Linked DNA regions of Homo sapiens. The protein of the gene in region 1 interacts with the protein of each later gene in a pairwise test. Each region holds a gene or a part of one and is shown in the gene's direction. Other genes may lie near its edges.

Region 1 (11,237 bases):
AAAAGAACCCAGAGCCTTCTTCCCAGCGCAAAGACAGGAATCATGTAGGAGTTTAAGCTCTTCCTTTTTTATTTTTTAGAGAAGCACCAAAAGAGGCAAACTGAGATGCAGACAAATGATCATCCGTATGCTGATCATTTTGAATAGTAAGTACCTGGGTGCTGATACCGCGATCAATGTGACAGGTCCCTGCCCTCAAGGAGCTAAGGCCCCTAGCCAATCTCTCTTTTTTTGTTGTTTTTTTTTTTTTTAAGACAGAGCCTTACTCTGTCGGCCAGGCTGGAGTGCAGTGGCAAGATCTCGGCTCACTGCAACCTCCATCTCTGGGCTCAAGCAATTCTCCTGCCTCGGCCTGAGTAGCTGGGATTACAGGTGTACGCCACCATGCCCAGCTAATTTTTGTATTTTTAGTAGAGATGGGGTTTCACCATGTTGGCCAGGCTGGTCTCAAACTCCTGACCTCAGGTAATCTGCCTGCCTCGGCCTTCCAAAGTGCTGGGATTAAAGGCGTGAGCCACTGCGCCCGGCCCTACCCTTGCCACTCTCTTAAACTCCTAGCCCCATCTTTTCTCTTTTGCCATCAGGTAAAACCCCAATTAACCAAAGTAACAGAGTAGGATTGCCACGGTTAGCTGAGGGTCTGTAGGAGATTGCATTTCATAAATGACCATTTTCCTCAGATTTGATCTCCCACCACGCCCTTGTGCTGTCACTTCATAGAGAAGCTTGAAGCTGTCACATGGGAATCCCCTCATTCTTCAGCTCCCAAAACTGCAAGCCTTACTTATATCTGTTCCTACCTTCCTTCCTCCTCCTAACCAAGGCCACTCCCTCTCCGTGCTTTGGATCCCATCGCTTTCCACTCGCCAAAAACTCTACCCTGTCAGGTATACATTCCCTCTCCTGTATGATCACCTGTTCCATCTCAGCTGGCTCTTTGCCATGGTTTTGAAGCATGTTCAAGTCTCCCATCACAAAAGAGAAAAAAAGAATCTTCTTTGACCCCACGTTCCCCTTCAGTTTCCAGTTATTGTCCAATCCCTTATCCCTTTCGACAGGCAAACTTTAAAGAACTGCCATATTCAATGCCTCTATTATTTGTCTCTCACTCCTCAGCCAGTATGGCTTCCCTCTTCATCTCTGCTAAAACAAAAACCAGGAATGAGACTTTTTCAGGCTTTGTCTTGCTCAATCTCTCAGCGGCATCTGAAACTGCTGCCCCCATTTCACTCTACAAACACTGTCTTCCCTTGGCTTCTGTGACCATCCCTGACTCTTCTGCTTTTCCTGCTGCCATTCTGGCTCACCCTCCTCTCCCAGGCTCCTTAATATTGGAGATTCTCAAAGCTCGGCATCTGTTCCCATTTTATTCTCCATTGCGCCCCTTCATCTAGCACAAGGCACAGATTCACACGCACAGCTTTTAAGTTCCAGCCCTGTGCTCTTGACTCCTACCTTTCTCCAACTTGACCCTTTCTCAGCTAGACTCGTACGTTCAGCTAGCTGCGTGACAGTGTTTCTTAATACCACTCAGTCTCCTCCAATTCAACATGCACAAAACCAAACAACCCCACTTCCCAACCCCAGCTGGAACCTCTTCCGTTGTACCTAGGATTCCTCCTTGACCCTTATCACACCCCAACACCCAGTGAATCCTTAAGCCCAGGTGAGGTTGTCTCCTGGGCATCTTTCACATCTCTTCATTGTCGTGGACACCCAAGTGCAAACCACCACCTTCATTCAGCCTGCCGCAGTCCTGTACCAGCTTGTCTCCCCACATTCCCTCTGGCTTTTCTCGATTCTTCACCCTGCAGCCAGAGTAACCTTCAGAAGGCAGAGCTGATTATGCCACCCCTCCCGCCTCCCTCTTTTGCCTACAGTTAGCTTCCCATTGCCCTTGGATTAATGATCCACATCATAAACACGCCTTCCGAAGGCCCTGCAGCTGTTCACCCCCGCCTGCGTCTCAAGACTCATCTGAAACCGCTGGCCCTTCTCACTGGGCTTCAGCCACATGGGCCTCCTCCACCCACCAGGCCTTGGCATTCTTTCCTCTCTGTCTGCATTGTTTTTCCCTCCTCCCTCTCATCCTCTCTTGCCTAATTAGTTCCCACTGACCCTTCCTATCTCAACTCAGACAGTACTTCTACAGGGATAACTTCCCTGATCGCTGTCAGGATCAGGTTTCTTTATCTTCACAGAGTTGTATCTCCTTCCTTGAAGACACTCTGGACAGTCACTATTATGATTAGTTCATTACTGACATAAGGCCCACAAAAATAGAAACATTTGCTGTTTGTGTTCATCATTGTATCTCCACACCCCACATAGTGCCTGGCACATAGTAAGCACTCAAATGGGTGCTGAAAGAATGAATGAAATGAACATTCTAATATGTAAGAGATACTAAGCGCCGTGTGTTTTAATACAATTCTATTAAAATAGAATGAAAATCTAGTAAAAATAATCAGGCAAACACTGAAAATTAAAAAGAATGTTGTGTCAGGGTAGCTAAAAACGGGTACTTGTGTAAAGATTTGTAGCCCTTTACTCAGTGCAGTACATTGCACTTGCCACCACTTGGTGGAAGTAGAGAGGCACGGGTTCTTATCCTGAAGGTGACTAGGGTGTCAGTCGGGTAGTGAATTCAAACATTTGTTCTAAAATATATAAAGTTGTTAAATTACCAAAACCTACATAGCATAGCTAGTCTGTAACCATCCAAACTTTGAACGTGGCACATTTTCATGTTATCAAATAAACTTGAAATTGCTTATATATATAGGTATATTTCATTTATGGATTTTAGTGCTAGACTGGACCTTATATGTCACTGAGAAATCACCTAATTTCTTGCCTTAGACATTTGAGGCCTAATAGCTAGTTGTATTGGCAGAACTGGGAACATACCTTTTTTCTTCCACAGTATACTGCCTCTCAATCAGTGTTTTGTTCGTTTGGTTTTTTTTGGTTTTGAAACAGGGTCCCACTCCATCCCTCAGGCTGGAATGTAGTTGTGCGATCACAGCTCACTGCATCACTGCGGCCTTGACTTCCTGGGCTCAGCCTCCTGAGTGGCTGGGACTGTCACACCCGGCTAATTTTTTTTTAGGAACAGGGTCTCACCATGTTGCCCAGGCTGCTCTCAAACTCCCGGGCCCAAGTGATCTGCCCACCTCAGCCTCCCAAAGTGCTGGGATTACAGGTGTGAGCCACCACGCCAGGCCAATCAGTGTTAAGAATCATAACCTCCCTTTGTCAATGTTTAGAGTGACTCGCAAAATTTCTGAAGCAAAAAATTGGGACACATAAAAGTAGATAAAGTGTTTGAAATAATGTTCTTGAAAACCGTAAGATATTGATTATCTTAGCTATATAATACCACATTTATAAGCTTAGAGAAGAGCTTTTCTGTTCATTTAACATTTTTGTCAAAGAGTTTAGAGTTTAAGCCTTTCATTCAATAGGAAGACCCTGAACTTGGGTCTGGCTGATGTTTTTTTCTAACCAGACAGGCTGTGCTTGTGGCAGAAAGACCACAGAAGTGGTGCTGTGATCTTCTCAAGTGCCCATGGACACTAGTGAATGTCACCTGTCCCACCCTGGTGACATGAACCTTGATTACCTGTTCAAGCACAAATCTGCCAGTTTTCTCCACAGCCACCTGTTTTCCCTTTGCATTTGATTAGTGCTTTGGGAAGAGATACTCTGACGTGGTAAATCCCATTTTGTTTTGTTTTTTTTTGAGACAGGGTCTCACTCTTGTCCGGGCTGGAGTGCAGTGTTGGCATGATCAAATTCACTGCAGCCTCAGCCTCCCAAGTAGCTGGGACCATAGGTGTGTACCACCACACCCAGCTAATTTGTTTTGTTTTGTTTTTTATAGAGATGGCATCTCCCTGTGTTGCTCAGGCTGATGTATCCTCCTTATTGGTATTGATGTTCAAATTGCCCTATCTTTGACTAGTGGGAGCTTCTTAAAGCTGGCTCCTGTGCCCTTTTGATACACACCAGCCTTTCTTCTCTTTGCCTGCCTCAGGCTTAGGATCATCCATTTCTCCAAGGAACCCCAATTCATTATAGCAGAGAATGGTATTTAGTGGAGAATGGTACACAGTGTACTCATTGTTTCTGGGGTGTCGTTGATTCTAGGCCCTCTCAGCAGAGTTAGGGGAAAAATACACGCACACATATACATACATATGTATATACACATACACATACATTTATAGATATATATGCACATAGATCTGTAACTGTATATAACTCCTTGTGTGTGTATGTGTGTGTATTTGAACCTAGCATTTCTCATTCTAATCCAACATTTCAGGGTTCTTTCCAGCCTTCCCTCTTTCAGACAGTAAGAAATTTGACCCCATGATTCTAAATATATTTACTTATGTCCTCAGTTAATTTGTTAGCTCTAATTAATTTCCTAACTTTGCCAGCTACCTGACGCCTCTTTGTCACTCCTCCCCCTTACAACTACTTCACTCTGCTTTCTCAGCCTTCAGCCATGCTTCTGCCACTGCCTCTGCAGGAAAGCCACCTGCTTTAAAAAAAAGTCTTCATGGAGTGCTTATGAGAGGGTCGGCTGTTTTCTCCAGCTCATTTTTCCAAAGCAAACAATCCCACCAGCTATCTCAGGTTGGTCATCTTGTTCCTAGATATAGTCCAAGGCAAGGTAAAGCAAGCTGGTTTCTGGAACAATTAAGATATTTCCCCAAAACGTTTGAACTCACCATCTTCTCTGACTTCTTGAAATTTATAACAGTGCAATTCATTTGCATTTAATAGCCTGCTTTTAGTCTCATTTTAATTTGTGATGTTTTTCAAGGTACCTGTATTAGTTCTGTATTGCTGCTATAACAAATTACCACAAACTCAGTGGCTTCAAACAAATTTATTTTCTTACAGCTCTGGAGGTCAGAAGTCTGAAATGAGTCTTAAGGGGCTAAAGTTAGGATGTCAGCAGGACTGATTCCTTCTAGAGGATCCAAGGGAGGATCATTCCCTTCCCTTTTCTAACTTCTAGAAAAGCCTGTATTCTGTGGCATGTGACCCCTTCTTCCATCTTGAAAGCCAGCAGCGTCGTGTCTTCTCCCTCTGACTCTGCTTCTGTGATCACAGAGCCTTCTCACTCTGACCCCTCCTGTGTCCTTCTTAGACAGGCCCATGTGATTACATTAGGTCCACATGGATAATCTGGGATAACTCAAGATAATCTTCCCACCTCAAGACCTGAAACTGATCACATCTGCAAAGTCCCTTTTGCTATATATAGTAACACAGGTTCTAGGGATTAGGACATGGACATCCTTAGGGGACCATTATTCAGCCTACCACTGTACCAAATGAAAGTCTTAAATCTTAAAAATGAGAATTTAACTCTATTTTACATGTAGACATTGATTGGAAAATGAACGTATCTTAGAGAACTTTACATATCTACACATACACAGATATGCTTTATTTTTTATAATATGCATTATCAGTATTCATCACAGTTATAATAACAATAATATGTTTTATCTGATTCTTTAATTTTTGCCATTCTGGTAGATGAAAAGCGGAATCTAATTTGCATTTCATTATGAGTAAGTTCGAACATCTTTTTATATAACTCTTGGTTTTCTGTGTTTCTGTAATGTGTTTATGCTGTAATGCATTCATATCTTTTGCCCATTTTACTAATGGATTATTTTAAGAGGTCTCTGCAAATTAAGGAAATTAGGTCTTTGTCATATGTATTGAAAATCTTTTTTCCAGTTTGTAAGATGCCTTTGAACTTTATTATTTTTTTAATTATAAGGAAGTTTTATATTTTTATGCAGTTATTTTTATCAGTTGTTTCCTTTATGGTTCTAGGCTTTATGTTTTTCCACACTCTGTGTTTTCTTTTAATAATTTTTTAAACATTTACATTTTGAACCCATCTAACCGTCATTTTAGTGTAAGAAATGCAATAAGAATCTGCTTTTGTTTTGATTTCCAGGTAGATTCTAGCCTACCTCTCATCATTTACTGAAGTCCACTTTCTCTACCTTTATCTTAGACTAGGTTACCATATGTATTTGTTTGTGTTTCTGTTTCTGAACTCTTTATTCCAGAATATTGTTCTGTCAAAGCATTAGTATCAGGCTATTTTAGTGACTGTAGTTTTCTATCTCAGTATCTGATCAAAGTAGTCCCTTCTCATCATTTTTGTTCATATTTCTTTGTATTCTTTCATATTTATTTCTCTATGTGAATTTTGTATCGTTTGGTCAAATTTCACAAAATTACTCAGTATTTCATTGAGAATACATTGATCATGTAGATTAAATTAGGGAGAATTTACAGCTTTATAATCTGTGTCCTTTTGATATAAGAACAAAATGTGTCCTTCACTTAAATATTTTATTTCAGTAGTTTTAAAGTTTCCTTCATATTATTCGTAGTAAACTTAGATGTTTTAAATATTTGGATATAGTAAGTGGGGTATGTTTCATCTATTTTCTAAGTCGTTTTATTTTGCATAGAGGAAAGATTATTTTTAGGGCCAGGCACACCTATAATTCCAGCACTTTGGGAGGCCAAAGTGGGCAGATTTCTTGAGCCAAGGAGTTTGAGACTAGCCTGGGCAACATGGTGAAATCCCATCTCTACAAAAACTTGGCCAGGCATGGTGGCACGTGCCTGTAGTCCCAGCTACCCGGGAGACTGAGGTGGGAGGATCACCTGAACCCAGGAGGTTGAGGCTGCAGTGAGCTGTGATCACGCTACTGCACTCCAGTCTGGGCAGTGGAGTGAGACCCTGTCTCAAAAAAAAGATTAATTTTATAGCCATTTTGTAACCTATGGTGTCAATTTAATTCTCTTGATAGTGTTTTATAAGTATATAATCATTTCATTTCATTTCCACATAATAACTTGCCTCTTCTTTTCCAATATTTAGACCTAGTACCTCCAGAACAATATTAATGAACAACAGTGATAGTAGGCATTTCTTATCTTAATTCTTACATCAGTGTAAATTAATGTTTCACCATTAAGCTTAAAGCTGTTTTTTTGTTTGAGATAGGTATTTATCACATTGGGAAAGCTTTCATTTGGAGCTTTTCAGATTGGGTTAGCAGTAATGAGAAGTTTTTTCAGGAGTAATGGATATGAAGAGAGGAATTAAGCACAGAGGCATCCGGAACATTAATTTATTTGATCAATATTTATTGGACACTTAATATTCTCAGGAACTCCTCTAGGCACTGAGGATATAGCAATAGACAAAGGAGCCAGAATGCATGCCTTGTGAAGCATGCAGTTAGTGGGGAAGCCAGGCTACAAACAGGCTGAGGAAGTAAAATGGGTGTTAGGTTAGATAGTATGTGTTAAAGAGAAAAAATGAAATGGGGAAGGCAATAGGAAATGTTGAGAATGGATAAGAAAAGAGGGAAAATTTGCATGCTGAGTAAGTTTTTTTTCCCAAGAGGCAGGACTGGTTAAGAATATAATTACTGGCCGGGTGCTGTGGCCCGGATCATGCCTGTAATCCCAGCACTTTGGGAGGCCAAGGCAGGTGGATCACTTGAGTCTAGGAGTTCTAGACCAGCCTGGGCAACATAGTAAAATCCCGTCTCTGCAAAAATAAAAAAATTAGTTGGGCATGGTGACACATGCCTGTAGTCCCAGCTACTTGAAAAGCTGAGGCAGGAGGATCGCGTGAGCCCAGGAGGTCGAGACTGCAGTGAGCTGAGCTAACACCACTGCACTCCAGCCTGGATGACACAGTGAGACTCCATCTCAAAAAATATGTATGTAATTACCTACCCATAGAATAATTTCAGCCAGAAACACAGATGTAATCATTTGAATTAAATTATCCTTATGAATTAATTATAAATTTACTACTGAATTTTTTTCATTATATGCGTGTAACAAAATATTTACTTTTAAGAATTAGGATTTTCTAGTTGTATTATTAACCAAGAATCTGATAATTCATGAAAGTATGGAACCAGAATACATTTTAGTATATAATACTAAATCAGTCACTGTCTCTGCTTCTAAAATACAATCCAGTGCTTACAATTAGCTACCAAGAGGGTCGTCTTTTTGTTATTTTTATTGTTGACAGGCAAGAAACACATAATCCAAAAACTTTAATTATTTATGTTCAACTCTGTACTGGAAAGAAAGAGCAGGCAGGTGAGCCACAAGATCTTTTCTGCCAAAAACTTGAAAAGGCACTGCTGTGTATGGCTCCTTCAAATCTTACTTCAACATCACTGTTTGATAATCACATCCAAGAATTTCCCAATCAACTGCCAACAGGTGATTCACTTTCATAGAGAAAAAGCCGCCTGTGGCCAGGTGCAGTAGCTCACACCTGTAATCCCAGCACTTTGGGAGGCCAAGGTGAGTAGATCACTTGAGGTCAGGAGTTTGAGACCAGCCTGGCCAACATGGTAAAACCCCGTCTGTACTAAAAATACAAAAAAATTAGCCGGGCATGGTGGCGGGCGCCTGTAATCCCAGCTACTCAGGAGGCTGAGGCAGGAGAATTGCTTGAACCTGGGAGGCAGAGGTTGCAGTGAGCCAAGACCACACCAATCCATAATACAAGGGAATATATATATATTAATTAAAACTGCTTCAAAACCTTATTCTTATTACATAAATATGTTTCTTTGTGAGATTGTAACATTTTCCTTTTGTAATACCATTTTAGGTTTTTTAAAATATATTCTTTCTTTAAAAAGAGACCAAAACCTGTCAAAAAAATACTACCGTGGAAAGCTCATAAATACTACAGTGTGAAGAACCCTGTGCTTATCTTCAGTTTATCATCAGACATCTTAGGGAAGTTTAATAAAGAACACCAGGTATGCAGTAATCACTTTCAAACATTTTAGTGTGTTTTATTTTCCATCTGCCTTGTTGCAAAAGCAGGAGAAAAGACACCTGACCGTTGTATTCAGAATGATTCAGACATATACCTTGATCTTGAACATTCTTATTTCTAATTCACTAATTAGATAAGCATAATATAGAAGTTTACTGTTCTTTTAAGTAGCCATCCCTTTCACCATAGTGCATTCCGGGAAAACGTAACCTCAACCAGATCAGATTTTTTCCATTAGAATAGTGTTTATAATTACTCATTGTGTTCCCGAGTCATAACAGCAAAGAAACAACTATAAACTCCATAATGATAGAGACATAATAAAATTATGCTTCATGTGCAGTAAAATAGGCACCACTATACTGTAAACTGTTCAAAATATAAATGCTGCCAAACTAAATCTGAACTATACTGTAAATTTGATACAAAAACTAGTGTAACTATAGTAGATATTAATTTTATAATTACTAACTTTGCCTATTTTAAGATCCTTTTGCCTTACCTTCTTCATAACCCCAGACCCTGGAAGACACTAAATAAATGTTCTTTGACTGAACATATTAATTAATTAAGAACATCAGTGGCCGGACATGGTGGGTCATGCCTGTAATCCTAGCACTTTGAGAGGCTGAGATGGGAGGATTGCTTGAGCCTAGGAGTTCAAGACCAGCCTGGGCAACATAGTGAGACCCTATCTCTTCAAAAACTAAAAATATTAGCCAGGCATGGTGGTATGTGCCTGTAATCCCAGCTAAATGAAAGGCTGAGGTGGGAGAACTGCTTGAGCCTAGGAGGTCAAGCCTGCAGTGAGCTGTGATCACACCACTGCACTCCAGTCTAGGCAACAGAGTAAGACCCCGTCTCAAAAGAAAGAACAGTAGGTGGTTGGTTTAAGGCCTGGATTTTTCAAAAATGCACCACATAATCAGAAATTTGTATGTGGAAACTACACTTTTTATTGATAACAATAGAGAAGTGTAGTGTATGTATATTAATATGAAGATTTCTGAAATAGTTTAATCAACTTAAAAGTACAGTTATAGGCCTGATACTAGTCATCAGTCAATTTTTAACAGGTCAGTGAGAAAACTGGTATTTAGCAGACTGAATATATGATCCTACTTGATACCTGCATTCAGGACACATTCATTGCCAACTATAGTAATAGCCAAGAATCAAACTGGGTTTTACTTTTGTTTACATTGCTGATAATGTCTCTCAGTCGCCATTTCATGGAAAAGAATAGAACTCACACAGTGCCAGGTGAACCCAAACATACCTGTATTGAGGTCATATAGGTAGAAATTTTAGGATGGTTCTGGAGTCCTGGGAATTCCAGAATGCTAGGAATATCCTGTCTCTTTGATGAGTATAATTTATGTACAAGTAACTCTTTTGGAAATTTACCTACCCTGCCAAGGCAGGAGAATTGGCAAAACTCTGTCTCTACAAAAAAAAAAAAAAAAAAAAAAGCTGGATGTGGTGGCATGGACCTGTAGTCCAGCTACTTGGGAGGCTGAGGAGGGAGGATCACTTGAACCCAGGAGGTGGAGGTTGCAGTGAGCCAAGATCGTGCCACTGCACTCCAGCCTGGGCAATAGAAGAAGACCCTCTCTCAAAAAAAAAAAAAAAAAGCTACAGTAACCAAAATAGTGTGGTATTGGTATGAATATAGAGAAACAGATCAGTAGAACAGTATAGAGAGCACAGAAATAGATCAACATATGAATATCTGGGTTTTTACAAAGATGCAAAGGCAATTGAGTGGGAAAAGGATAGTCTTTGCAACAAACGGTGCTGAAGCAATTAGATGCCCATATACCAAAAAATGAATTTTAATCCATAATAAGTAACTCAAAATGGATTACAGATTTAAAGTAAAACTTCTAGAAGAAAGAAAGGAGGATATCTTTGTGACCTCAGGTCATGCAAAAATTTCTTAGATACAGCACCAAAAGGATCTTTTTTTTTTTTTTTTTTTTTTTGAGACAGAGTTTCTTGTCACCCAGGTTGGAGTACAATGGCGCAATCTCAGCTCACTGCAACCTCCACCTCCTGGGTTCAAGCAATTCTCCTGCCTCAGCCTCCCAAGTAGCTGGGATTATAGGCGCCCGCCACCACGCCCAGCTAATTTTCTTATTTTTTGGTAGAGATGGGGTTTAAATTTGTTGGCCAGGCTGGTCACGAACTCCTGACCTCAGGCAATCCGCCTGTCTTGGCCTCCCAAAGTGCTGGGATTACAGGCATGAGCCACCGTGCCCGGCCAGGATCATTCTTCAAAGAACAAATTGATAATTGGGCTTCACCAAAATTAACAGTCTGCTCTTTAAAAGACATTTTTAAGAGAATGAAAAAT
Region 2 (11,237 bases), on another chromosome or scaffold:
AAGTTGGACCCCGCTGTTCAGCAGCTGAAGAACCAGGAGAAGGAGGAGATGAAGGCCCTCAATGATAAATTTGCCTCCCTAATTGGCAAGGTGAGCACAAGTAGGGGGTCCCAAACATGAAGGGCTGCCAGGCCTGGGCCGGTAGCTGAGCTCTGTGTTTCCCTGAGCATCGATCACCGCGCCCCACCCCTGCACCCAGCCAATGGGGAGATGGCACTGCTAACCCGACAGGCTAGCTCTGAGCAGAGGCTGGGGGAGGGAAGTCCCTGATCCATCCTGGCATGTGGGGAGAAAGGGACCCCAGGATGGCCTTTGAGGGATGTGTTGATAATAACATGCTGCATGACCTGGGGTCACCCACCACCCAGGCAGGGACTGGGGAGGACCACCTAGTGTGGCCAGGGGTGCCCTCTCGCAGGAATGGCTGATGGAGGCATGCTCTGCGGTCCTACTCTGAGGCAAGTGGACAGGGGAGATGGCCTCCCAGGCACCACGCTCCTGTTTATCCCTCAAGCCTCTGGTCCCACAGCATCTCTCTCAGCTGCCCCAGTCAGAAAAGCCAGCAGGGTGGAGGGTGAGTGCGGGGCTGCTGGAAGGAGGTTGCTGCCCAGACTGCTGCAAGTGAGGGTGCAGCTCAGGTGTCAGGAGATAGGAATGCAGGGGACGATGCCTCGAGTCAGAACAGGGAAGCCAGTTGGGCCTTCCTGCACCCTGCGCCCCTCCTGACTGCGGGAGGTGCATCCTCAGCATCACAACCACACTTCCTAGACTCCACTACCCATGGCCTGCAACAGGTCTGGGGCACTCGTGTCCACCTCTGCTCCCAGGGCAAGGGAGCTCCCAAGGAAGTTATCCACTTCCCAAATCTGTTCTTTACTCATCTTCTCCAAGAAACTCCTCCTGACTCTGCACCCTCCTGCACCCTCAAGAATAATCATGATAGTGCCAGCTGCCATTGGTTAATTGCTTACTATGTGCCAGGCACTGTGCTGATGCTTTTCAGGTTTATCTGTATTTCTCTCAACAACCTTATGGGAGAAGACAATTTTATGTCCATTTCACAGATAAGGAAAACTGTACATTTCTGAACCTGCCAGTAAACCAGAGGTCCAGCCTTCAGCCCCTGGCTCAGTCCTTGTCTGCTCTTGGCCTCTGATTCTGTGTTCCTCTGCATGTTGCTGGTCTCCCCCATGAGGTGGGAGCTCACAGAGAGGGGCAGAGGGAAGAAAGTAACATGCATTGAGCATCTACTTATGCCTTGCCCTCTGGAGGAACATTGCAAATGCAATGAAATTCAAGCCACACTGCCACCCTGCAGTGGCTGTTATTTTCCCAACTGTGCAGATGAGGAAACTGAGGACCAGCAAGGCTAAGTGCCTTGCCCAAGATCACACAACCAGCAAATGGTAGTCTGGATTTGAACTCAGGTCTGTTGAGACACGAAGTCAGTGGTCTCTGTGGTGGGAATCTTTTCTTTCCTTCTTCCATTCATGTGCCTAGACCAGAGTTTCATCATCCACACCTGGGGTACCCCTGGGTACCCAGAGGGGAAGGACCACAGTCCACTGAGGCAGAGCATCCCTTCCCCCAGCCCTAACTGCACAGAGCCTTGCATTGCTGAGCTGGTTCTCCCTCTAAGAGCAGCCCAGCTGCCCTGGGGAGGCAGGTCCCTAAAGAGCCACCTCCTGACCAAACCCAGTTTAATCCCTTAGAAGGAATGCTTCACTGAGCTATGGAATTTGGCTCAGATGGGTGGTTTTCTCCCTCAAACGCCAGCACTGATATCACCCTGTGCCCCTGCCATGGGGATGGGAGGATATAAGCACAGGGAAGAGGCCCTCAGGGTTGGGGTCCTGTGCCCAGAGACCAGGGCAATGCCCTTGAAGTTCTTTAGCAGAATTGGAGCCTCCCAACCCTTAGCCTTGACCTTGAGATGGGGTGCCCTTCAGGGTGGGACACAGGGAGCTGTGGGTACTGGCCGTTTGGGGGCCCTGGTTGCAGGGCCCCAAGGGGCCCCAGCTGACCCTTCAACTCTGCAAAGATCTGTTAGCCCCACCCTCCTTGCCTCCTTGTGGAGGCTGTGAGGGCCCACATGGAAGCAGGAAGTGGTTAAGATGTGAAATCTGGAGCAGCATTGTGGGGTTTAAATCCCGGTCCACTACTGACCAGCTGTGTTGTCTCAGGCAGGTTATTTAACCTCTCTGTGCCTCAGCACACATTAGGTTAGCAGGCTCATTAGAATCAAATGGGAGAATTTTTGAAAAGAATTTAGAACATATCTGGTATATATTAAGTATATTATAACTGTTAAATAAAAAATGAAATAAATGGGCCTGGCCCAGGGAGCAGCTAGAACCCAGTTAGCCCCTTCCAGGCAGGAGCCTGGAGAGCAGGTGGGGAGAGGCTCCCTGCCGGATAGAGGAGTGAAGGGACTCATGGGCAGGAGGTACGGCGCAGGGCTGTTGAGCAATTATGGACCCAGAGGAAGGCCCAGGGGTGAGACGCCATGACCAGTGGGTGGGGGCTCTGGGTAAAGAGAGGAGAGGGGTGGGGGCCCTCTGAGGAACTGAGAGGAACCTGGGAGCACTCAGGAGGAGCAGAGACTCTCAGGAGGTGGTAGAGGCCCTGGAACACTGTGGTTTCTTCCACTTGCTGGCTGCGTTTTCCTGGGCAAGTCATTTACCCTCTCTGCGCCCCAGATTCCACTGCTCTGCTCTGCCGGTGGTCCTGAGCTCGTCCCAGTGGAAGGACTGGTAAGGCAACAGTCATGAGATGAAGGGGGATGAGGAGAAGCAGTAGCAGCAGGAGAGGCCAGGGGAGGCAGGGAGGGCGCAAGGCCGACCTCCAGCAGAGGCTGCTGGCTGGGCTTCTTGCCTTCACGCACACACAGACAACAGAGGGGATGGAGAGAGAGGCAAGAGGCAGGACTGCCTGAGCTCATCCTGGGGAGGCTGTAGAGAGGGAACCTATGAGCAGTGGTAAAATGCCTGGAGACAGAGGGATGGAGACAGAGGGATGGAGACAATGTCTTCACCGAGGCCTGTGTGACCTCTGGAAGAGCTGAAGTCAGCCTTCCCCCTGCCTGTATGCAGAAAAGCACAAACCAGCCACTGCTCGTGAGTCTTTGAGGCTCCCTGGCTAAAGCCAATGTCTGGCTGAAGGCCGGGGATTCAACAGCCCCCGCTAAGGAACACTACCTGTGTGGCCCAGAGGCACTCCCCTGTAAGACCTGCAGCCTCTGGGATGTCCGGCCTGTCTCCCTCCAGGAGTTCCAGTTTAGGCTGCTCGGTTTCCCCCACAAAACAACATGCCTCTCCCCTAACCTCAGCCCCAACCTGGCCCTACTTTTCAACTGGGCTTCAGTTTCTTCATCTGTAAAATGGAGAGGTCCCTGCTACAGCTGCTACTGTATGATCTAAGGGCAGAGGGCCAGGCAGAACAGAGAGGAGGAATCAGAGGTGAAGGCTCGGCAGTCTTCCTGGGTTGGAGGCAATTAACCTGGCACCTCTCAGGGCACCAGGATTATGAGCCCTCCCCAGGTCCTTGTTCTGAGAGGGAGGAGCCTTTCTGCAAGGAAGGTCCCAAGTGGGGAATGAATTTCCATCCCCGCCCACTGAGACAACCAGAGACTCCCCCAAGGGCAGCAGAAAACAGGGGGCTGTCCCTGATCCCCTAAGACCACAGATGCCTTCTAGCTGGACTGGCCGGCCAAACGCACACCATGTCCCAGCGAGCTAGTGCTGAAGCATAGGGAATTGAGGTTAGACTGTAGGAAGAACTTCCTGGTGTGAAGATTTCTCTGCTGCTCATGGGTGGAGGAAGGAGCCTCACATCTCTCCTCTCACTCCACCCTCAGTGTAAACATGGGGCTCCTGCTTGTCAAAACGGAGGCAAGGTGGGGTGAGCAGATACCTGCCCCCCCAACGCTCCCTCTCACACTCACAAGGCAGGGCAGAAACCCTCTTGACCTCCATCCCTACTGAACCTGTTTGGCTGTGAGTACAGCAGAGAGCAGGATTAAGGTTGGCTTCAAGCAGAACCTACCAGTACAGATATGCAGGGGAATGGCAGCCCGCAAATACCGTCAAACGCCATCATCCAGTATTCCTGCTGGCGTTGTCTGCTGTGAATGTCGAAGGGTCGTCAGAGCACTTCAGGAAAAACAAGGACACCCTGAAGAAGCAGAGCAGAGAGAGAGGGGCTGGCCCCACCTGACCGTTCGGGAGCCTACGAAGGTGCAGAGAGGGCAGTGGCCATCAGATGGGGCTCTCTGGGAAGCTGGGCCACCGAGTTGCTTTGTGACCCTGGAGAAGTCACTTGACACCCCTGGCCTCCATTGCCTCCTCTGCAAATGAAGGGCCCAGCTCAGCTGATCCAAAAGGCTGCTGGCAGCTCTCGCAGGCTACGATTCTGGGAGCCTGGGCCAGCAGCACCGGCAGTGGTGGGAGAAGGCCCAGCTACTCACCTGTGACCATAGGGAGCATCACTGGGCTGGTTATCAAAACATCCTCATGACAAACAACCCACACTGACGGGAGCCAGGCCCCAACCAGGCCTCCAACCTCATGGCCTGCCCTCATGGCCTATCCCTGGCACCAAGGGAGGAGAGGCCCCAAGGGGGAGCAGATGGCTCCCAGTGTGATGGGGAAAGTGGTGGGTCAGGACAAATGAGAAACAGGTAAACTGGGGGCCTTTCAAGATATGAGTCATGGAGGGCTTCCTGCAGGAGGGAGCTGGAAGAACAAATGGGGAGGAGAGGAGGACCTGGTGATGGGAAGGAGAGTAGAGAGGACAGCCAGGGTGGGGAGGAGGGAGGCAGGGGGAGCCCCAAGCTGAGCTGGGCTGGACTGGGTAGAAGGAAGGAGAGGACTGCGCAGGACCCTCCCAGCAAGAGGCATATGGTAGGCAGAGTCTGAGAGGCGCAGCTGGGCTCAGAGCCCTCCCAGGGTTTCACCTCGAGGCAAAACTGTCCCTAACTGGAGGCAGAAGCCAGCCCATGAAGGGTAGCTGGGATCCCAGGGCCCACAGTGACCAGCAACACACAGGACGCATGTGTCATAGTGGTTAAAAGGTTCTAAACCCAAAGTTCCTGGATTCCAGGCCTGGCTCTGCCACTTGCTAATTTTGTGACCTTGGGCAAGTTCCATCACCTCTGGTTTCCTCATCTGTAAAATACAGCTTATAATAGTACCCACCCATGGGGGTGCTGCAGGGATTTCATGGGTCAAGCATGTAGAGCAAGGCCTGGCACACAGCAGGGGCCACATGAGCACCTGCTGTTGTCGTATCCCAAAGCACATCCCCAGGTGTCCCCACAGTCTCATGGGGAGAGTAGTGGCTCAGGACAAAGGAGGAGCAGCTAAACTGAAGGCCTCAGTGCTGGAGGGAAGAGGGAAGTCTTTCAACCTGAGTCACAGAGAGCTTCCTGCAGGAGGGAGCTGGAAGAACAAATGGGGAGAGCAGAGGGCCTGGTGATGGGAAGGAGAATAGAGAGGACAGGCAGGGTGGGGAGGAGGCAGGGAGAGCCCCAGGCTGAGCTCGGCTGGACAGGGTGGAGGGAAGGAGAGGACCGCGCAGGCAGGTGTTATCATTCCTAACTTCTAGCTGGGGAAACTGAGGTTCAGGGAGCCTCTGTCATCGAGAGGATGAGCACTTAAGGACAGTACTAACCAGGCCCTACCCTGCTGAGTTTCCAGGACAAGATGGGACCACACTTGTCGTGGTGGCAAGGGGGCAGATAGGCCTCTGACACCCCATGTTCCCTGGGGTCTCCCGCCCCAGCCCCAGGCAGGCATGGAGAGCCTGTCGCATGCTTGGCACTCTCACACCCTCTTACCCCCTTCCTCTGCCAGCCCTGCCCTGCCCTCGCCTGGAAACCTTTGCTAATTGGCTCCACCTTGCTCTGATCCTGTCCTTATCTCACCATCTTCAGTTTTAACAATCAGTCATTGGAGGTGCTTTCTGCTGAGTGAGCGCCCTGGGTGGTGTGCATAAATGAGCTGCCACTTCCCAGGGAGCCCTCCGTGGGCTCTTGCTGGTCAGCCCGGGGCCTCAGCCCCCGACTGGTCCACACCTGACCCATTCGCCGCCTTCCTGCTCTCCCAGGTGCAAGCCCTGGAACAGCGCAACCAGCTGCTGGAGACACGCTGGAGCTTCCTGCAGGGCCAGGACTCAGCCATCTTCGACCTCGGGCATCTCTATGAGGAATATCAGGGCCGGCTGCAGGAGGAACTGCGCAAAGTGAGCCAGGAGCGGGGGCAGCTGGAGGCCAACCTGCTGCAGGTGCTGGAGAAGGTTGAGGAGTTTCGAATCAGGTACGTAGAGCCCCATGAGAGCCATGAGCAAGGCCTGAGGGCTGGGACCAAGCTGTGCTCAGATGGGAGGCACTTAAGCCAGAGAAAGAGGAAAGATGTTCTGCAACATTTCTTTACCTGAGACATTTATTGAGGGACTGGTATGTGCCAGGCAGTATTCTAAATACTGAGGATATGGCTGTGAACCTACAGCCGCCCCCTCCCTAATAGCAACCCTTAAAACAAAGTCAATCTTGTGCTGGCTCCCAGCTAAACCCTGTGCCTGCTGGCCCTTGGGCATCATCATAACCCGCACCCCCTGCCTCGAGCAGCCGTCCTCTTGTACCTATGGACACACTTGCTCTTGTCCACATGTTGCTCTGGCAATGGGAAATTACGTCACTAGCTAGAACAGATGGGTTTCTGTTTTAGATGTGGCTTTAGATTTTGATCTCGACTGGGTTGGAAAGGAGAGGAAAGCCACCAGGAAGCAGGAAGGGGATGGAAAGAATGGGTTTGATTTGAATAAAGAAGCAATGCATGCCAGACATCAAGGTAGACTTGGAAAGAGACAGATAAGGAAAACAGCCCCAGTATGCAAGGTGCCTTTACAACTTAGTGGGGCAGACAGACAGACAGACAAACAGTTGCTGGGCAGTATATCCCAGCATTTATGGGCCCAGGCTTGGGCATTAGCCCAGAATGAGGTTTAATCTTCATCATCACCCATCACTAGCTTTGTGACCTCCAGTAAGTGGCTTAATATCTGAACCTCAGTTTCTTCCTGTGTGAAACGGGAATGATTATGGTTGATGCCAATCTAAAGTAGGTATCTAACCTGAGGAGGAAGTTGAGAGTGTGGCATGGTGACTGGCAGTTATAAATGGCAGCTTTTCTATCCCTAAAAGGCTGAAGTTCTCAGCACACAGCAGGTCTTTGACACAGGTTTGCTGAACTGAATTGGCCAGTCTAAAAGGGAAGGCTGGTCACTCGGGCTGCTTAGAGGAGAGGTGACCCTCTGTGGTCAGGTAGTGGGCAGGGCTTCAGGAACAAGGAGCCTGGGGCAGAGGAGAGTGGCTGTGCCCTGCACCGACCTCCTTGGGTCTGGTCTCCTTGCAAGGAGACCTCCAGCCAGCGTGAGGGGAGGACAGGGCAGGCTGAACCCTTGGTCTCCCCTCCTGCAGTGCTGCGGCCCAGCCCCAAACCCTGCCAATCTGAGGTGAGACCCACAACCTCCAGAGCAGCCGTCCAGGCAGGCTGGAGAGTGGAGAGCACCTGTCCTGTCCAGGAGTCCAGAGACCTGGGCTGTAGCTGAGTTTACCCATCGCCTCTCCCCAGCCCTGCCCTCCCAGGCCTAGGGAAACACACACAGGGCATCTGACCGCCCCTCCGGAGAGACCCAGCTTCCTAGTACCTGACCATGACCGGGCAGTCGGGGCAGCTCACCAGAATCTGTGACCCACTTTCCTGATCCCCAGTAGATCTTTGGCCCTCAAAGGCTCAGAGAATGCCAGAGCCAGAGGGAGCCCTGGATCCTCCTTTTACAGGGAAGGAAACAGGCCCTGAAAGGGCAGGGCTTGTCCTCAGTTACACAGCCTTGCATGCTAAGTCCCATCCCTAACCCCAGCCAGCCACTGGGTAAGGCTGCTCCCACGAGCTCCGCCAGATCACGTCCATGGAAGCACTTTGTAACTGGAAGTTCTATACACACACTACCTGTTGTTTTAATCTGGCTCAGCCCCCTCATTTGGCCTGCCGCCTGGTTTCTATCCGCCTGCTACCTGACTCTACTGCTTAGGCTGAGCCTCTCTTCCTCTCTCTGGGTAGGGAACCCACCCGAGTTGGGAAGGAGAGACTGGGCAAACAGCCTGGCTGGAGGGCTTCTCGGTCTTCAGGCCAGAGCCAGGGGAGCTACAGCCTGACTGTGCAGAGCCTAGGGCCCCCAGGAGCCAGGAGACGCCAGGCCAAGCCCCAGTAGGGAAGGGCTGTGCCCTGTCTCTACGGAGCCGATGAGATCAGCCTCACTCCCAGAAATAAACAAGTTGCGGGGGTGGGGATGGTGGTGCAGGTGTGACAAGCTAAAAAATGCCTGAGAATGGGTTTGGGAGCTGGTGGCTGACAGACTGGCAGAGGATTGGGAGTGGAATAGGGGACCTAAGCCTCTATGGGGATGGAGACTTCCGAAGGCTTTGAGGTAGCAGAAACCCCAAGGATCAGCAGTCTAGCCCTCTATTTACTAAGAACAAAGCAGAGGCCCAGCAAGGGGAAGCAACTTGCCCAAGGCCACACAGCAAGTGACTCAGGGATGCCACATACAGCTGTGCAAACTGTGCGCTGCACAAGTGTGCATGATTCAGGCGGTGGATAGGGACTGAAATCCAAACAAGCATCAGGCCATGCAGGGTACCAGGTCAAACAGCCCGTGAGGAAGGGGGCTTTTTTCTAACTGGCACAAAGGCTGGAGATGAAACAGTATTGGTCTTAAGGGGACTGGCTGCAGACTGGAACCCAGTGTCCAGCCGCAGCCCAGCGTTCCCCTCGGTCCTCTCCCCTGGGGCTCAGGGCTTATTCCCACCCCACCCACAAAGCACACCTAGAGGTCCAGGGTCAAGGCAGACCTGGCCTAGCCAGGATACCGTGAGGATGCTCCCTCCAGTCCCCTGACTCCTGGTGTCCTTCTCTGCCAGAGGGGGTTTCCCAGGGCAGCTGCCAGGCCAGCTGTCTCCCTCAACTCACCCTACTTATGTTCCCCTAGGCAGGGTGAGTGGCAGAGAGGCACCTGTGCTGTGCCAAGAGGCTTCCTGAGGCCGAAGCAGAGGGGCTGAGCCCCAGCAGGTGCTGTCCCCCGCTGCAAGCACTCTGTGAATTGCCCCCATTTAATCGTCACAGCATCACTATAATCGTGGCTGAGGCACACAGGAACTCACCCCAGGACACAGCTGGTTAGCAAGGAAGCCAGGATTTCAGCCCAAGTAGCCTGGCTCTGGTCCCCTTGCTTCATCAGCACACTCCAGGAGCCCCCAGTCCTTCCTTGAGCCTCCATTTCCTCATCTGTAAAATGAGACCAATGGGACTTCCCTAGCTGGGTGCTCTGAGGACCACCAGAGAGAGTGCAGGTGAAGCACTCAGCACCTGTTATTCCCCACTCAAGTCCAATTTAGTTCTCTCTGGGGATGCCTAGACAGCAGAACGTTCTCCCCGGCCTGCTCCTCTGCCCCACCCCCAGGACCTGTACCATCAAAGCCCCTAACAGACTCTTGGCAGCCAAGGCAGTGGCCAGGGAGGGTGTGGGCCCCTGGTACACTGAGACCAGAAACCCACGTGCCCTGCCATTGGGTCCACGCCCCTCAGCTCCTCAGGTGGGCTGGTGGGAAAGAAGAAGGCATGAGGGGCGCCAGATATAGCCAGCTCAATGGGTGATGAGTGACGCAGCCCTGCTGGGAGGCTAGGGCCTGAGGTAGGCAGGCGGCTGTAATTAGAGCCGCCAGTGATTCAGGCATTCCCCGAATAGGAGGGAAAAAAACAGAAGCTGCTGAATCCCCACAGCAGCTGGGGCCAGCGAGAAGTCTGGAGCCAGCAGACACCCACCCTGGGGCTAAGACAAACAAATGTCTTGACTTGAGGAAGAGGGTCGGGCCAGGGATCTGGGGGTCCTGTCCTCCCCACCCAACGGTGTCCTTGTTCCAAACCCAAGGTGGGAGCGAGTAAGAAGTCCAAACTGAGAAGAGCGTTATTGAGCTTTGTTGAGTATGGCCTATGCGGCCTGTAGCTGGCTGTCAACTGCGTCAGGGGTGGGTTTGTCAGCCCCCTGTACACGTGGGCACATGCCTACCCCTTAGAGGCAGGAAGCCAAGAGAGGAGGGGTGATGCAACTTGCCCAAAAACACACTGGGGGTCCCTCTGACAGCAAAGTTCACACTCTTTCCAGCCTCCCTTTGGAGGGAATACAATGGGATGGTGTCCTACTGGCTCGCAAAGCAGAGGGGTGGTGGCTGGGGCTGCAGGGAAGGCATGGAGGTGGGAGAGGTGAGGTGTGAGCAAGATGCTCCCAGCGGACTTGAGTGAACCTGAGATTGCCAGGGAAGGAGGTCAGGTAAAGATGAGGGGATAAAGTGCCAGGGTGAGGGGCTGCACAATCAGGGAGGCCTCCTGGAGGGGAGTGGGTGTGGAGCAGAGCCAGGAAAGGGCAGAAGCCACTGGGAGAGGACTGTGTCATCAGGAGGGAGTGAGGAACGGGGAGCCAATGCCAGGAGGTCGGGGGGAGAGAGAGAGGATGTGTCATAGAAGATGCAAGAGGGAGAAGGATGGGCTGCTTTTCTTTAATTGGCAAAGAGACCCCAAGTGGGATAGCACAGGCCCTGAGCCCCAACCAAGGGGAGTTCACCAGGCCCAAGCCCCCACCATATCCAGCTGAGCAACCCCTCTCTCCCTCCCAGGTATGAGGATGAGATCTCCAAGCGCACAGACATGGAGTTCACCTTTGTTCAGCTGAAGAAGGTAGCCTGCCCAGCCTGCCCCAGGGGCTCCTTCCTCATGGGCCCTGGGCCCTCTTTCCCTCCAGATATCCTACTCTCCTTTATGCCCAATCAAAGCCCTCAGAGGCTTAAGTCCCAGGACCAACAGACAGACAGGGAGATACCCCCATCCCCATCCAGCTCCTTTTTCGAGGCTCTGAGCCAGATCTCCTCTGGAATCACCCCCACTCTCACCCAGGAGGCAGCCCCCCAGCCCACTCCTGCCCTGGGACCCTCCATTCCCTCTCCCACCACTCACCACTGCTGCCAACCCCAGGACCTGGATGCAGAGTGTCTTCATCGGACTGAACTGGAAACCAAGTTAAAAAGCCTGGAGAGCTTCGTGGAGTTGATGAAAACCATCTATGAGCAGGTGAGTGAGATGGGGCCAGTGTCTTGCCAAGCCCAGAGCTGGCTGGTCCATGGGTAA

What was found.
Region 2: the proteins of LCA5L (region 1) and KRT80 interact in binary tests that used the Homo sapiens proteins (3 or more experiments, as listed by UniProt).

The regions. Positions count from the first base shown.
Region 1 is NC_000021.9:39,433,044-39,444,280, reverse strand, and holds part of LCA5L (lebercilin-like protein), read left to right. Parts: intron 1-79; 5' UTR 80-146; intron 147-4,507; exon of another isoform or gene 4,508-4,647; intron 4,648-5,562; exon of another isoform or gene 5,563-5,597; intron 5,598-8,113; exon of another isoform or gene 8,114-8,184; intron 8,185-8,707; 5' UTR 8,708-8,861; intron 8,862-11,237.
Region 2 is NC_000012.12:52,180,456-52,191,692, reverse strand, and holds part of KRT80 (keratin, type II cytoskeletal 80), read left to right. Parts: coding exon 1-90; intron 91-5,943; exon of another isoform or gene 5,944-5,994; coding exon of another isoform or gene 5,995-6,105; coding exon 6,106-6,314; intron 6,315-10,729; coding exon 10,730-10,790; coding exon of another isoform or gene 10,791-11,084; coding exon 11,085-11,180; intron 11,181-11,237.